4 separate regions of the Homo sapiens genome follow, and regions 1, 3 and 4 are each reported to be linked to region 2. The links are microRNA targets in miRTarBase. Many come from high-throughput screens and were not tested one by one. Region 2 holds a microRNA gene; each other region holds the end of a gene's coding sequence.

Region 1 (4,213 bases), not on the chromosome of region 2:
ATTTGACAATGTGAGAAGCATTTTTTTGATTCTTACAACATAGAGGGTGCTGCTGGTAACAAATAGGTAGAGGCCAGGGATGCTACTAAACAAAGCACAGCCAGCCCCCTGCAATAAAGGGTTATTATCAGGCCCCAAATGTCAATAGTGCCAAGGTTGAGAAACCCTTTTCTGTATTGACAAACAACTCAGGTCACTGTGATGCAGGTCAGGACCACCCTCTGAGAAATATGGCTACAGGGCTCTTCTTGTGAGCAGCCAGCTCAGGACTGCATAGACCACATGCTTCTTGAGGGCAGGCCAGTCTATCCATGCTGTGTCCCCAGCACTTAGCACAGCAACTCACACAAAGCAGGTGCTCAGTAAGGATCTGTGAATGAATGAGTGAATCTGCAGGTGAACATGATTGCAAACAGGTTCACATTCCGGGAGAAGCTAGAGGACCACCAATGTCTTGTGAACTTGAGAATGTGACAGTCGATTCAATCAGAGACAAGTGCAGGGTGGTTGTGTCTCTCAGGCCAGAGCAGGGAAACACCCTGGCTGGTGAGGGCTAGACTCTGGCTCCCTTGAACACCGTAGTCGCTAGGAGTAGGGGAGTGGGAATATGAGTGTGGCAAGCACTGACTCAGTGATGGGAGAAGGGCAGAGAAAACTCTTAGTATTCTCTTTGATTTATTGGATTAAATAACTGGTTTAATGGAAGAAATCAGTTTCTGAATCTCTTGCTCTGTTGTGTCCCACAGCCCTCCTGGAAGCCTGTGAATTCCTCAGGAAGTAAAACCGAAGAAGATGGCCCAGCTCCCCAAGAAAGCCTCAGCCATTCACTGCCCCCAGCTCTTCTCCCCAGGTGTGTTGGGGCCTTGGCCTCCCCTGCTGAAGGTGGGGATTGCCCATCCATCTGCTTACAATTCCCTGCTGTCGTCTTAGCAAGAAGTAAAATGAGAAATTTTGTTGATATTCTCTCCTTATAAAGTGTCACTCATCTTTTCTAGAATTTTATACTGAAATCACATGCCTGACAAAATACCTGTACAGTTGGACCTTCCCTTCCAAGTTTTTCAGGTCCAGCCCCTCCTCTTTCTTGCAGTCTTGGGTATGATGCCCAAGGGTCTGGAATTTAAGGCCAGGCCAAGCACCGGTTTTCCTAAGGGGATCTTGTTGGTTATTCACATAGCTGTCTCAGTGCACGTGCATGTATGTGCCTGGGAGTGTGTGCGTGTCCCCAAGGCAGGGCAGGAAGAGCAAGCATAGGAATTATAACTGAAATGTAGGTTCAGTTGCTCATCACTTGCAGAGTCTAATTAACAAGAGCTAGGTTTGGTATAAAGTGACTTTTATTCCAAAGCTACCTTAGGGGAAGAAGTACAGGCTTCTTTCCTTAAGGGTAACTGCTTCACCTTTGGAGCAGAAAGCAGAGGCTTTTAAATGGGGGGCGTGGCATGCAAGGCAGGAAGTGAGCAGGTAGAGGGTCTGGGTACTGGCTTTGGTGCCTTGTCTACCAGGCAGTTGAGTTGGTTACTGCTGGTGCCTTTGTGGGCAAAACTAGGTTGTAAAAGCAGCCAAAAAATTTCCAGATGGGAGAGTTTCATAGCGGGCATATTTTGGCTTGTGAATTGACTGTTATGTCTCAAGGTAGTCTCTTGGTGGGAGAGAGTTCTGCTCTGTAGCGTCTAACTAAGAGCACATAGTTAGATGAACTTGCCCTGTTGGGAGTGTCTGGTGAAGGGGAGATAAAAGATTATAATTGCATTTCTAAAGAGCTAAGTAGGAAGCAGAGAAAAGGAGAGAGAAGTGAAGACAGAATAATTTTAAATAATGAAGAGAGAAATGAAGAAGGAATAATTTTCCTGCTTTTCCATTGGTTCTTTGGACATAACAGGCAAAAGTGTCAATCAGGGTGAGACTGTTCCTTCAAGGGCAGAGATCAGACAAGTGTCCTGAAACTCTGCCTCCATTGTGGGGGCAACCATTTGGCCATGTTCCCCACTGTCAGTGAGATGAATAGCTCTGCTGCTGCCTGCAAAAGCCTCTGAAACCTGTCAGGAAAGGACATTAATTAAGGTCCCATAATGCTAGGATGAAGCTCTTTTCCTATTTGCTACTTTGAATTATGGCCTGATATGTTGTCCATCCTCACTAACATGAGAAGATTAGTCAGTGAGCAACATCTGATGGGGTAGCCACAGCAGTGATAATGCCAGCACTCTTAAACATGACATTTGAACAGTATGAACTTTCTTGTCTAAATAAGATACTAAAGTGAAATTGAGGCCCACCTATGAAATTCTCCTGTTCCAGGTTGAAAAGAAATGGAACATCGCTGTGTCTCTCTGTTCACGCTAGGTTATATTGCTGTAGCAAATGGCCTCCAAATCAAAATCTTAGTGGCTAACATGACAAAAATGTGTTTCTCTCTTGTGTCCATCTCCATCATGGGTCAGCAATGGATCTGTGGCTCATGTCTTTATTCTGAGACCCAGGCTGAACCAGCAGCCCCAATTTTGGGCATGTTGGGCTTGAGGCAGAGGGGAAAATATAAGAGACAGAGGCAGCTGCTCTGCCTATGGAGTGCTATTCTTTTATTCCTTTATTTTCTTAATAAACTGCTTTAACTTAAAAAAAAGAGACAAAAGCATCATACAATAATACTTACAGTGTCTGCTTGGCAGAGGCCATATCATCTTTATCATTTCATTGGCCAGAGAATTCACATGGCCACAACATCAGTGAAGTCGCCCAGGAGGAAGGGGCAGTGATAGAGGACTGGGGTTAGTGCAACAGTGCAAGGAAAAATCTTCAGAGCATTTCATAGTGCCCAGCCAGAAGGCCATCACAGGAATGTCCCACCCACCCACAAAGGCTTCTCTGCAGTCCTAGAGAGGTGTCCTTTGCCCAGGTCCCACCCCCTTCCCAGAGCATGGCCTGGTAGGTGTGGCTGGATCTCAGTCCCTGTGTGCCACTCACCAGGATGGTTGGGCCTCTGCCTGCACAGCTGCACAGGCCACCCCAGAAACAGAAGATTGACTAGATGCAGGATGCTTCCTGTGATATTTCACAATTTATCCTGCATTAATGATATTTTCCCATACAGAGAACCATGCAGTAGTTCCCAAGGTTGGGTTCCCTGAGGGGGAATCATTCATATTTGATTTCAGAAACCCTCCCTTCAGGCCATTGCTAACTTTTGCTGTAACACCAGTCACTCTCTGAGGTTCAGTAACAGCTTCATCTTCCTCACCCTGTGCCACAACTTTAAGACTGGTTTGGGCACATCCTCTTATCATTTTTGTGTATGTCTCCTGGGGTCTCTAAGTCCCAAATCTTTCCTTAAAAAGTTATTTCTGTAGAGCACCTGATTCTGTCATTGTTCAGGTTGCCACTATGTAACCCACATGGACCTAGGGAAACTGAACAAAGGGGGCAAACGTGGGAATAAAAGACAAGAGACAAAAGAGTATATTTGGAAGAAGCGGTCAGGGGGCACTTTGCCTCTAGTGGACAAGGGCCCTGAGCTTTACACAACCCTCCGTAGTGATTAGACAAAAGAGATAGTGAGAAGGGGGGTGTGGAAGAAGGGATCAGCTGCTCAGTCCACAGTAGGCTTGCAAGACTGCATTCTCCAGATGTCCCAGTAGATAACCTCAAGGAGCCTGGTGCCAGGAAGTGATTGCCCTCAGCAAACCTTCTGGCAGTGGGAGCAGTCGTGAGTTTGCCCACATCCTGCATTCATGATAAACAGTTTGCTGTTTTATCATATAGCCTCCAGTGGAATGATGAGTTGGTCAGTCCCACGAGCCTTAGGCTCCCTAAATATCCCCCTTTCTGTTTATGAATTAATTGAAAGAATGTAAGGCCAGGGTGGGCAGCTCTCATTTTCCGATTGGTGGTCCATCCAATTTTACAGGCTATGAACAGAAGACAGAGACAAAACAATATTATTCCAAGAACTACATGTAAGATGTTAATGTAGTGCCTTAGATAAGTCCAAGGATTGAGGCTCTCCAGGCCTTGCTGGAATTTGGTCCAGTCTTCTAAAGAAGGCTGAAACTCTTGAATTTGCCTATGTAAATCAAGAATTTTGTTTTGTAATTCACCAATATCAAAGGTGATGTTAGATGTGAAAGCTCCCTGCAAATGGGCTTTCACAACGTCCCACAGATACTCACTTTGGTTATATTCTAAGTTGGTTACACAAATATGAGTGTGATTA
Region 2 (4,000 bases):
TCACAGCCCTCATACACACACCTGCTAGACCCCTCCATCCGTCCTGTGTGAGCCCTGTCCTTGCTGTGAGAGCCGTCCTGTGCCCCCTGTCCCTCCTGTGTGCCCATCACCGTATGCACGGGAGGCTCTCCAGGCCAGCCAGGACCCGGTGGTGTCATCCCCCGGCTGGGCGTGTCTCTGTGGGGCCGTCACCCCCTCCGCATGCACACACACCTCCACTCTTCTCCATCTGGGTCCTAACCCCGGGTAGGCTGGAGGTACAGTGGGCCCTGGTACTTCCCTGCTGACCTGCTCCTCCTCCCGTGTCCCGCAGGCCCCAGGGAGCGCCATGGCCCGCGCACGCCAGGAGGGCAGCTCCCCGGAGCCCGTAGAGGGCCTGGCCCGCGACGGCCCGCGCCCCTTCCCGCTCGGCCGCCTGGTGCCCTCGGCAGTGTCCTGCGGCCTCTGCGAGCCCGGCCTGGCTGCCGCCCCCGCCGCCCCCACCCTGCTGCCCGCTGCCTACCTCTGCGCCCCCACCGCCCCACCCGCCGTCACCGCCGCCCTGGGGGGTTCCCGCTGGCCTGGGGGTCCCCGCAGCCGGCCCCGAGGCCCGCGCCCGGACGGTGAGTGCCCGCCCCGCCCCCGGGGTGATAGGAGCCGGGAAGAGAGAGGGCTGGAGACTCGGAGGAACTGGAGAAGTGGGAGAGGACGGGGGGAGGTGGCGGGCCCAGCCGGGCCACTGGGAGGGTGTGGCCAATGTGGTCTTTGTGTTGCAAGAAGCAGGAAGACGGAGGCTGGGGGTGGAGGGGGAGGTCAAGTGGGAAGTCCCTCCTGGAATCTGACTGCAGTCCCCGAATTGCAGCCCACTGTCTCTTCCGGGCCTGGGGCAACAGCTGCATCCCAGCTCCCCTCCCCCAGTCTGGGTCCTCTAGACCCCCTGGAGGATTCCTGTTGCAGGGAGAGTGGGCCGAGCGGGAGGACTGTCAACTCTGGCCTCTGGGGAGGGGTCGAGAGGCCTTTTGCTTTTATTTGCATCTCTTTGGCCAGGGGCTGTCCTCAGCAGTCCCGGCGGAGGAAGGAGAGGGGGAGGGGCCATTGTGTTGGGAAGTCCCCTCGGGGAGGTGGGGGAGTCTTGGGGAGGGAAGGGTTAAAGGTCCCCTGCCTGATGGGCTGTTAACCCTGTGGTGCCCGTGGAGCCCCATCCCTGCCGGCAGGCGCTCTAGGGAAAGTGTGTCCTGGTTTCCCATCCCCCATCTTGTCCCGGCAGCCCAAGGGGAGCGAGGAAAGAGAAAACTTCCCTAACTCAGTTCCTGGAAGCCCTGGAAGGGGACACCGATTTCAAGGCCAAGGTCACAGATGTGGAAACTGAGGCCCTGGCTGTAGGCCTTAGGGAACCCTCAGGCCAGGACCTGGTGGGACGGGAGGGCAGGAGCCTCCTAGGGCGCTCAGAAGTGGGGGGGGGGGGGGGGCAGGAAGGCATCTCCCGCGTCCCAGCCCCCCAGGCCCGCGCTCTGAAGCTGCCACAGTCTCTGGCCTTCTGGTCTCTAGGCCTCTGCCACATCCGGAGGTGTGGCTTCCCTGTGGTTGGACACGAGAGGGCAGGAGACCTGAGGCTTGTGATCTGGGTGGGGTCAGTCACTGTATCCCTGTGTGACCTTGGGATACTCCCTAAGGGCGGGCCTCAGTTTCCCTGCCTGTCACATGGAAAAGGCAAAATGTGGCCCCTTTGGAAAATAGAGGTCGTTAAGCCTGACCACCCCCGGGGTCACCTCTCTGGCCGTCTACCTTCCACACTGACAAGGGCCGTGGGGACGTAGCTGGCCAGACAGGTGACCCCAGAGCGGCGTCCCCAGGTACTTCTTGCTTTCTGGTGCCTGTGGAGGAGAAGCTGAGAAATTGACTCACTAGCGATGGGATCACTAGAAATGAGGCGGGGAGCAGTGGCTGGGAAAGAGGGGAGCAGGCCGAGACACCTCGAGGCCTGGAGGGGTGGTGGGTGCTGACCGCGCCCCTCTGCCTCTCCAAGGTCCTCAGCCCTCGCTCTCGCTGGCGGAGCAGCACCTGGAGTCGCCCGTGCCCAGCGCCCCGGGGGCTCTGGCGGGCGGTCCCACCCAGGCGGCCCCGGGAGTCCGCGGGGAGGAGGAACAGTGGGCCCGGGAGATCGGGGCCCAGCTGCGGCGGATGGCGGACGACCTCAACGCACAGTACGAGCGGCGGGTGAGTGCTGGGGGTGGGGTAGACGGCAGGTGGGACTTCCGCCGGAGGAGGGGGCGGCAGGCGGCCCCCGCCAGATGTGCGGCAGCTGCTGCCCTGCGCGGCTGGGTCGCTCCGCGGACAGGCAGGTGGGGGGTAAGTGGGTGGGGGGGAATCGCGCGCCCGCAGAGCCGCCCAAGGACTCCGCGCCGCGGCTGGCATAGCCGGAGCCCGAGCCAGGGCCAGGGCCAGGGCCAGGGACTAGGCCGCCGAGGAGTGGAGCTGCGCGCCCGTGGCCCGCGGCCGCGGGGACTGAGGGCGGCGCTGGGCGGCGCGGCTCATATATCCCGGGCTATTTATAGCCGGTGAGTCAGCAGCCGCGCCGCGCCCGCCCCCTGCCGTCCCTCTCGCGCGGCCCGCAGCGCCACACAGTTTCCCGGGCGCCGGGGCGGGCCGGGGACCGCAGGGGTGGGCTCGCAGCCCCGCCCCGCGGGAGGCCCCGCCCCCCAGCCCCTGGCACGGCCTCGATTTTTTAAAACAAATATTCGAAGCCCACAGCAGAGAATGGGAAATCACAAACATCATGCGCCCACCAGGCAGCTCTGTTCAGTTTGAACATTACACCCGCATTGCTTGCTTATTAAGAAACCAAACAAAACCGCAGAAACGCATGTGGTGAAGCTCCTTACTCTCCCCATCCCTTCCCCCTCCTTGCATCCAAAGGAAATCTCTCGAGTTGGCCTCTCTCAACCCCTGCAGGTGTTGCTTTTACTCCGTATTTACCAGGCCAGAACCAGGGCTTAGAATCATGGAGCATTCTTAGCTTAGCGTATATGACATAGTTTTTGTTTCTCCCCAGAATTCCTTTTTCCCTCAATATTAGGCTTCAGATTCACCATATGGGCAAAAGAGCTTCCATTCATCTATGTTCAGCCAGGCACGGTGGCTCACTCCTGTAATCCCAGCACTTTGGGAGGCGGAGATAGAAGGACGCTTGAGCCCAGGAGTTCCAGACCAGCCTGGGCCACATAATGAGATCCCCGTTGCTACAAAAAATACAAAAATTAGCCGGGTGTGGTGGCGCGGGCCTGTAGTCTCAGCTACTTGGGAGGCTGAGGTGAAAGGGTCCCTTGAGCCAAGGAAGTCGAGGCTGCACTGAGCCATGAAGGGTCACTGAACTCCAGCCTGGGGGACAGAGCAAGACCATCTCAAAAAAGAAACAACAAATACAGCCATTTTCGGCCTGGTGCAGTGGCCCACGCCTGTAATCCCAGCCCTTTGGGAGGCGGAGGCAAGTGGCTCACTTGAGGTTGGGAGTTTGAGACCAGTCTGGCCAACATGGTGAAACCTCGTCTCTACTAAAAATACAAAAATTAAGGCCGGGCGTGGTGGCTCATGCCTGTAATCCCAGCACTTTGGGAGGCTGAGGAGGGCGGATCACCTGAGGTCGGGAGTTCGAGACAAGCCTGACCAACATGAACAAACCCCGTCTCTACTAAAAATACAAAATTAGCCAGGCGTGGTGGCACATGCCTGTAATCTCAGCTACTCGGGAGGCTGAGGCAGGATAATTGCTTGAAACCGGGAGGCAGAGGTTGCGGTGAGCCGAGATCGTGCCATTGCACTCCAGCCTGGGCAACAACAGCGAAAATCTGTCTCAAAAAAAAAAAAAGAAACAAAAAGTAGCTGAGCATGGTGGCACACGCCAGTAATCCCAGCTACTTGGGAGACTGAGGCAGGAGAATCTCTTGAACCCAGGAGGTGGAGGTTGCAGTGAGCCGAGATCAGGAGATCATGCCACTGCACTCCAGCCTGGAGGACAGAATGA
Region 3 (4,202 bases), not on the chromosome of region 2:
GTATCTTAGACTTTCTCATGTGTTTCTCTGACTGGAGAGAAGATAGCTCTTGTTCTTCAAATATTTAACTAAAGGATTTGCTGTGGGTGTCTGCTGTTGGAGCCGTGGGTGTTAAGAGACTTTTGATTATGCAGGTTTGAATCCTGGCTCTGTTGTTAACTAGATGGATGATATTGGCCAAGTTATTAATAGCTTCTTTGAGACTCAGTTTTCACATGTGTAAAAAGGGTTTGTTTTGAAGAGTAAAGGAGATAATCTATGTAAATAATTTACCATGGTGCCTAGGACTTAGTAAGTGCTTAGATTTTAGCTTTTAGTTTAATATAAAAATACTGATAGAGGGCTTTCAAAATGTTTACTATATGTATCTTTTTTTTCTCTTTTAGCCAAATGATTTCTCAGTATCACTAAAAGCACAAGGGAAAAACAAGCATTTTAAAGTCCAACTAAAAGAGACTGTCTACTGCATTGGGCAGCGTAAATTCAGCACCATGGAAGAACTTGTAGAACATTACAAAAAGGCACCAATTTTTACAAGTGAACAAGGAGAAAAATTATATCTTGTCAAGCATTTATCATGATACTGCTGACCAGAAGTGACTGCTGTGTAGCTGTAATTTGTCATGTAATTGAAGACTGAGAAAATGTTGGGTCCAGTCGTGCTTGATTGGAAATTGTTGTTTCTAAATCTATATGAGAATTGACAATAAGTATTTTTATTATAACTCAGCCCATACATATATACTATGTATGCAGTGCATCTGCATAGAACAGTTCCTTATCCTTGGCCTTCTGTTTTATTGTTTTTTTCTTTGCTGTTTTCCCTTTGCTTCTAATATTACAGTTTTGTATTTTGTAAACAAAAATCAAATAATGCATATCAGAATCTTTATATGGAAGAAATCCTTTATTGCCTTTCCTTTGTTTCCTTGTAAAGGCACCCTGTTCTGTTATGGTTTTTCATTATATAAAATTATTATATCTATATATGACATATGCTAAAATTTCTTGGAGAGTGTTAATCTTTTCTGTGACTAAATAGCAATAATAAGTGGAAAATTAGAAATTATTTCCAGGTATTATATTTGTCACAGGCCATTGTAAATACCAAGTATATTGTGTCTGCCATAATTTTTAAAAATACATTCATTGTCTTCAGTCATACAGCAAGACACATGAGACATAGATTAGAAAACATGTTGTACAATTTTAATTTACAACTGTTGGAAATAAAAATCACTTAATTTTTTTCCAGTGCTTCTCCCTCATCTGGTTATTCAAGAAAACAAAACAGTCTCTGAGATATTTAGCTTTTCAAACTGTAAATAGATGCTCTAGTGTTATTTATTTTTTTAATCCCACTTGTATTATTTTACCTCTAGAGCATCTTGTATTAGGACATGTTATATTTATGCCAGTGGGAAATAAGTTATGGCCAAGTTTTGCAAAAACAGGAAGCAGTGAGATACTTGTTTTTTTCTCCTCACTAAATATCAGTAATTGTCAGGAATGGTATTACCTATTTTCATTTCCTCTTTTCAGCTTTAAGTTTTGTTGATTGGGACACTAAAACTGATGTATACCTGAGGAAAAAATAGAATGTGCTCATGGTTAGGGAAAATTATATTATTTTTAATTTTTTAATTTGTTTTTTAACCAAGTAGGAATTTGGGTGTATGGATAAGAGGCCAATCTGCTTCTGTAGGCTATAGAAGAAAACCAGTTGTATTTTATGGTCATAATTTGTCCCCCTATTATTCTGGAGATTTAAATTTAAGTAAAGTAGCCATCAGTATTTTAATTGAAAAATACTAAAGCCACATAACTGAGTAGGATGTCGTATGATACTTTCAACAAATTCCCTAATGCTGCCTAAGCATATGGATGTTTTAATTCTTTGCTGTTATAAATAGATATCTAATACGCCAGAATTACTGATGGTAAAATTGAAGTTGTGTAACTTGTGAATTTTTTTTATCAATGTTTTAAATATTATTTAAATCTTAAAATCATTTAAAGACTTATGTTGCCACTGGGTGGCAGCCATGGCTTCTCCCACTAAGCAACAGAAGTGACCAAATATAATTAAGACAAATTTTCATCTCTATTACATCTGCTTTTAAAACATTTTAGTTCATATTCTATTATTTTTCTAACTCAGTACTCCTTTGTTGAGGGTAATTATTAGTAGTTAAGTTTTTAATGGAAATAAAAATCATGTATGCTTATCTTTGCTGTAAAATCAAATGAATATAAATTGAGGAAAACTTTAAATTGTTGTAGGATGACTAGTAGTAAACATCATCTTAATTTTTAACATATATTTGATGATGCTTTCCTTTTCTCTGTATGTTTCTGGGTTTTCCCCCAGTCTTCCTTATGAAAAAAATGTATGTTTGTAAAAAGAGAACAATTAATGCTTTGCATCACAGACATAAACTATTCATAGTAAACTGCACTGAGCTGATATTAATAGAGCAGACTTTTGAGAAAGTAGGAGTGTAGTAGCACTGGAAACAGAATGCAAATTTCTGTTCCATAATTAGGTTTATTGTAGCTATAGCGCTCCCAGATAACCCATGTGTGCTAGTAATATCTATTGTGTGCTCTTACTATGGTATAAAAACCTCGCTGGAAGCTACTTATTTTGTACTTAAATATTTTACCAATTTTTAAAAAGTCTTAATCCAATGCTTATACCAGTGACTGTTTTTATAATACTTGAAGTAACTTTAAGAACTGAAACAACCCTGGAAAACTCTACATAGCTAGATAGTAACAATACTTGTATAAGAAACCAAGTTTCCTTATTCCCAGCCTGGTGTCTGTATCGTGACACACTACTCTGTGTATGCTTGGTTTTAGACTAGGAGGAGAGTCCTGGGAAGGGCAATATTACAGAAGTTTTCTTCCACATGAGGAGAATGCTTAGTTTCAAATTTAAATACATGTGTCAGATGGAACCCTGCCTAACTCACTTCTACAAATAACTTCCCCAAAATCTTAGAAGGTTTTTTAGAACATGATATAAGCTTTGTGACAAAAACAAATGCCATTGTGTCCCTTATTTAGTCATAAAACCTTAGGATTCAGCTGAATATATATTCACACATGTATATTACACATATATCACTATACAGTTAACACATGCACCTTGCACTATTAGTGACAAATAATACTGCTAAACAAAATAGGCTTCATGCAATCTATTGCCATTGCTAGAAGAATAAATAGGCCTAGCAGATGGGCAACTTGGGTTGTTAGAATAAGGTCATTCTTGCAGAATATGGCACTTAAATTATCTCCAGCTGTAATGTCCTACCATATAATCCAGAGGTTGCATAGAAGCAGAGTTGTCACAGTCTCTGTAGCACGTTTGTGAGAATTCTCTAGGCAGGCCCAGCCCTTCTCTAGAAGTTTGAATTTCACTCCCACCTTGTTGCTGGGGTACCTTCTTCAGGGTACATCTAAACACAGTGGCCTTATACAGAAATGTTGTTCAACCCACACAGTGCTTTAAAAAATTAATTGCCAACATTTAAAAATCAGGGAGTTTCACATAAAATTCAGACTTCTTGTTTCCCTTTAAAAATGAGAAGCTAATAACATGAGTTGAATTCCCACAAGTCAACAATGAGCTGGAATCTAATATGGATGGTCCTCTTATCTTTACCAGTGCACATGGTGAAAAAATTCAAACAGTATAATAAAGTCTTCTTTCAAGTCAAAATATAGAGACGAATCTCTGAAACGTTTTATTTGGGAAGCAAGAATTGTAATTCAGGGCATATACACAGACAGTAGTTTTTGGTATGTCTAAAGAACAGAGAAGATGGGGAGTTTTATTATAAAGAGAAATGTTACGTATGTTTTGAAAGAAAACTCATTGGTTCTAGATAAGTTTTTGGGAGGTGGCAAGCTCTGATTGGTGTGTGACAGTGATAGGTAAAACCAGTCTTAGAGTCACAGCAGGTCATTTCAGCAGCTACTAGGTAAAACTGGTCTTAGGGTTTACAGTAGTCTGTTTAAGTAGCTGGGCTTGTGGAAAACTGAGTTCTTGGAGCAGCTGCTATGTCCTTCATGTACTTTTTCCCCTTAATGCATTGAATCTGATTTGGTTGGGTATGACAATAATTACCCAATTTGTATAATTAACTTTCACACTCCCAACCCTTATCCCCCTAGTTGAGATCTCCAGATGC
Region 4 (4,213 bases), not on the chromosome of region 2:
GCCAAGCAGAACCAGCAGGAGAACGTCAAGTTCATCCTGACCGAGTCTGACACGGTCAAGCGCAGGCCCAAGGCCAAGGAGCGGGAGGCCGGGCCTGAGCCACCACCGCCACTGTCCGTGTACCATAATGGCACTGGCACCGTGCGCCGCCGACCGGCCTCGGAGCAGGCTGGGCCTCCGGAGCTGCCTCCACCGCCCCCGCCTGCCGAACCCCCGCCCACCGACCTGGCGCACCTACCCCCATTGCCCCCGCCCGAGGGCGAAGCCCGGAAGCCGGCCAAGCCGCCTGTCTCTCCCAAGCCCGTCCTGACGCAGCCTGTGCCCAAGCTCCAGGGCTCGCCCACACCCACCTCCAAGAAGGTGCCGCTGCCAGGCCCTGGCAGCCCAGGTAGGCCAGCCAGGGTGGGGTGAAGGGGCAACAGGACCCTGCTCCACCTCCTTACTCGGTGGTCTGAGGGGTTTTCCTTTTCTTGGGTTTGATGGAAGCCCAGGTGGGGTGGGAACGTGTCCCCAGACCCTCTCATCCATCCAGGGCTGGGGGCAAGGTGAGCAGGGTCTTTCCCGGTCCGCTGGGGAGGAAGCCGCGGGAGGCTGGGGCAGGGGGCGCGGCGGCGGAACTCGTGCCCGCTCGGTGCCAGCGTGGTCCTCCCCGCAGAGGTGAAGCGCGCCCACGGCACGCCACCGCCCGTGTCTCCCAAGCCGCCGCCGCCGCCCACAGCGCCCAAGCCCGTCAAGGCGGTCGCGGGGCTGCCTTCGGGCAGCGCCGGCCCTTCACCCGCACCCTCGCCCGCGCGACAGCCGCCCGCCGCCCTCGCCAAGCCGCCCGGTACGCCGCCCTCGCTGGGCGCCAGCCCCGCCAAGCCCCCGTCCCCCGGCGCGCCCGCGCTGCACGTGCCCGCCAAGCCCCCGCGAGCCGCCGCCGCCGCCGCCGCCGCCGCCGCCGCGCCCCCCGCCCCGCCCGAAGGCGCCTCGCCAGGGGACAGCGCCCGGCAGAAACTGGAGGAGACAAGCGCGTGCCTGGCCGCGGCGCTGCAGGCGGTGGAGGAGAAGATCCGGCAGGAGGACGCGCAGGGCCCGCGGTAGGTGCGGGGCGGGGCCTGGCGGGCGGAGGGCGGGGCTCGGCAGAGATGGGCGGGGCTCGGCAGAGATGGGCGGGGCTCGGCAGAGATGGGCGGGGCTCGGCAGAGATGGGCGTGCCGTGAGCGGGGCTCCGCCGAGGTCGTCGTGCGGTAGGCGGAAGCCGACGGAGATGCGGGACGTGGGCGTGTCCTGGTCGGGGTGGGCGTGGCCAGACCCGCCCCGCCCACTCACGCCCCTTGCCCCGCGCCCCGCAGCGACTCGGCGGCGGAAAAGAGCACTGGCAGCATCCTGGACGACATCGGCAGCATGTTCGACGACCTGGCCGACCAGCTGGATGCCATGCTGGAGTGAACGCCGCCTGGCCGGGCCCTCCCGCGCCGCCCGGGCCCTCCCCGCACACTGACCTATACCTCAGGATGGGCGCGTCTGGGCGCGGCGCGAGCGGCCGGGCAGGGCCCTGCAGAAGCACAACTCCGGCCCCTGGACCCGGGCCGGGGCGCCCACCGGGGACCGCCTGGCCGGGGGCTCCAAGGGCTCTAGGCAGACCCTGCGCCCGCGGGTCCTCCCCACCTGCTGCTCCCCGTGCAATACCTGCTGGGCCTCCTGCCCGCGCGGGAGGGGAGGGCGCCCCGGGACCAGGGATGGGGCAGCGCACAGGCCCGGGCCCAGCACAGAACTGCCCATCGGGACGCCCGGCCAGCCGCTCGGGCGCAGCACAAGGGACAGGGGACCAAGGTCAGGGCCCCCCTGCCCCACCGCACCCCCAGAATATAAGCTATCAAGAGTATTAATTTATTGGGAATGAGCTGAGGCGGATTTCCCCAGAGAAACAAAAAGGTATAACTTTAACAAATATATATTTAAAGAAAGAAATATTATTGATTCTATAGAAAACCATTTACCAACTGAAAGGACACGAAGTCTAGCTCCGGACAAAAGCTGTTAGAGGCCCAGGCTGTCTGCCTGCGGTCCTTCCTCCGGCCAGAGTGGAGGCCCCAGGCTGCTAGCACAGGTGGAAGGCTGGGGCCCGGGGGCGGGTGCTCTGCCGGGGGCTCCTCCGTGCTTCTCTCCTAAGTTCTCTGCGCCCCAAGAACTCGAGGTTGTGCCTTGCTCTCGGCGGCCGTGTCCTCCTCCTGGCGTGGCTGCGTCCCAGGGCGCGGGTGGGTTTGGTGAATGTGGGTGTGTCAGCGTGGCAGCCACGTGGAAGCAGGGCATGTAGCAGGCCAGGCCACGGGCTTGCAGCTCCTCTGAGGGTGTGCCTGGCCCCCTCTCCAGGGGCTGTGCAGGCAGCCCATCCACCCCAGTGGAGTTCCCACGGACGCTTCTGCTCATGGTCCAAGGCTGTGTTGTGTGGTCATTCTCGCCCTCCCTTTTCCTCTCTCCTCCTGCCCCCTCCAAGAAGTACTGACTGGTCTCCTCTATCGTGTTTGCTGATCCACAGTGTTGGGCACAACTTTGACGTTTCTTAAAAAAAAAATTTAAAAAATGCCGAAAACCAGCGATTGTGGTGTGGGGCGGGTGGAGGCGGCTGGCGGAGGTGGCGTCCCGGCGTGCAGGGCCCCTTCCTGCTGTCTCACCCCGTGTTTCCCTGCGAGTGGACGTGCCCAGCTGTCCCCCCAGGCCTCTCCTCAGAGGGCGGCACAGGCTGGGCTCCAGCAGGTGGGCAGGGGAGGTCTGGGCAAGGCGCTGCCGTCGGCTGTCAATAAACAGCAGGAAACAGAGGTGCCTGGCTCACTTTTTGGGGGCACATGTGTTGGGGGAGATGGGACTGGAGGCCAGCAGCTTGGGTGTGACGAGTTGCCTCCTAGCAGGGAGGGGAGGCCCCGGAGTGGGCCGAAGTCCTGGGGTCCACCAAAGGAAACTGCCCCATGCCCCCCCACTCACAGCAGCCAGTGCCTGTGCACACCAACCTCAAGGCCACACACAGCCCCCTTGTCCCGAGGAGCTGTCCCCACTCACAGCCACAGTCTGTGGAGCATTTATTTCAACCAGGAGGTAACCAAATCTACATACAGTCTAAAAACGGTAGAAAAGGTGAGTAAAAAGGCCCTCGCTCCATCTAGGGTGGGGATGGAGGGTGGGGATGGAGGGTGGGCCGGGGCAAGCGTCGTACCTGGCACCCAGAGAGGGGCTGGGCAGCAAGGACAGTGCCGAGTAGAGGGAGGCTCGCCGAGCATGGGACGGGGAGGGCACTGCCCGGCTGCCAGAGCCTGTCCACCTATGCCCACGGGGCAGGCAGAAACCCCGAGACCACCCCATGTGGCCAGCCTGGCTCAGAAAGGTCCAGGGCTGGTTCAGGGGAAACCACAGCCTGGCCTGGATCCTGTTAGCAAGTCCAAACCTGCAGAGAAAGGGCTGCTTCACCAGGATGTCCTGCGGCCGGCTGCCCTGCCCCAGCCACACCTGCCACACGTACCTGCCCTCCACCACTTTGTGCTGGGGCTGCCAGCTCCTCGTCCCCACCCCCGCTCCATCCTGTGCAGCCCCTTTGAATGGCCTGAGCCACGGGCACTGACCTTCACAGTGCTATCCACAGCCCCTGAGAAGAGTCGGCCCCGGGACACAGCCAGCGCGGTGACACTGCCCTGGTGACGCAGCAGGGTCTGCGTGCAGATCATGTTGTCCATACTCCAGACCTGGGGGCACATGGGACGTGAGGGCCCGCCGGAGCTCAGCTGCCAGCCCTCTGAGCCTCCTGCCACCGCTGGGCCAGCACGCACCCTGAGGGACCGGTCGTAGGATGCACTGAAGACTTTGGTCTGGTCTGGCGTCGAGATGACCGCCAGGGCATACACGGTGCCCACGTGGCCCGTGAGGGTCCGCACCTGCTCCTTGGACTCAATGTCCCACACCTGGGAGGGGTGGGCACAGGCAGGTCAAAGACACTGAGCAAGGCGGGGGAGACGGGGCCACAGTCTGGCCTTGCACCCAGATGCCCAGGCCTTACGTGGATGAGGTTCTCGTAGGTGCCACAGACAATGTGGTGATTTGTCACAGCAATGGAGTAGACGCTGCCACCAGACGTCTGCAGGACGTGGATGCAGTCAAGGGTTCGGATGTCCCAGATCTATGAGTAATCGTGGGCCAGTTGGTCCCAGGCCAGGTGCTTCACCCCCAGGGCCCCCGCACCCCC

What was found. Region 2 holds the annotated microRNA hsa-miR-3191-5p (CUCUCUGGCCGUCUACCUUCCA, at 1,749-1,770, shown strand). A microRNA usually pairs through its seed, bases 2 to 8, with sites in the 3' UTR of a target mRNA and lowers its output. Matches are read on the target gene's strand: a 7mer-m8 pairs with bases 2 to 8, a 7mer-A1 pairs with bases 2 to 7 and ends in A, and an 8mer does both.
Region 1: miRTarBase lists LTF as a target of hsa-miR-3191-5p. The part of its 3' UTR that is shown has no 7-base or 8-base seed match.
Region 3: miRTarBase lists NCK1 as a target of hsa-miR-3191-5p. The part of its 3' UTR that is shown has no 7-base or 8-base seed match.
Region 4: the mRNA of TRAF7 is a reported target of hsa-miR-3191-5p. Seed matches in the 3' UTR shown: 7mer-A1 at 2,156-2,162.

What each region holds. Positions count from the first base shown.
Region 1 is chr3:46,432,763-46,436,975 of GRCh38, reverse strand. LTF (lactotransferrin) reads left to right here. Exons shown (of 17, transcript NM_002343.6): 17 at 747-1,331. The coding sequence ends at 781. Among named protein-coding and RNA genes, the nearest start is that of LINC02009, 11 kb to the right of the region's middle. RefSeq lists a silencer at 3,444-3,738.
Region 2 is chr19:47,224,760-47,228,759 of GRCh38, reverse strand. It overlaps MIR3191 (microRNA 3191), which reads left to right and starts at 1,741; the gene lies at 1,741-1,816. It overlaps BBC3 (BCL2 binding component 3), which reads left to right. Exons shown (of 4, transcript NM_014417.5): 2 at 314-602; 3 at 2,006-2,196. The coding sequence starts at 329. It overlaps MIR3190 (microRNA 3190), which reads right to left and starts at 1,818; the gene lies at 1,739-1,818. RefSeq lists silencers at 264-703, 1,924-2,223, 2,593-2,759, 2,254-2,813 and enhancers at 736-1,678, 2,887-3,386.
Region 3 is chr3:136,947,873-136,952,074 of GRCh38, forward strand. It overlaps NCK1 (NCK adaptor protein 1), which reads left to right. Exons shown (of 4, transcript NM_001291999.2): 4 at 387-3,734. The coding sequence ends at 581. All of the region lies in intron 3 of IL20RB-AS1 (IL20RB antisense RNA 1), which reads right to left. Among named protein-coding and RNA genes, the nearest start is that of IL20RB, 8.0 kb to the right of the region's middle.
Region 4 is chr16:2,175,768-2,179,980 of GRCh38, reverse strand. TRAF7 (TNF receptor associated factor 7) reads right to left here. Exons shown (of 21, transcript NM_032271.3): 18 at 4,028-4,147; 19 at 3,801-3,932; 20 at 3,597-3,716; 21 at 1,852-3,421. The coding sequence ends at 3,407. CASKIN1 (CASK interacting protein 1) reads left to right here. Exons shown (of 20, transcript NM_020764.4): 18 at 1-388; 19 at 656-1,079; 20 at 1,335-2,801. The coding sequence ends at 1,431. Among named protein-coding and RNA genes, the nearest start is that of CASKIN1, 19 kb to the left of the region's middle. RefSeq lists an enhancer at 1,652-2,153.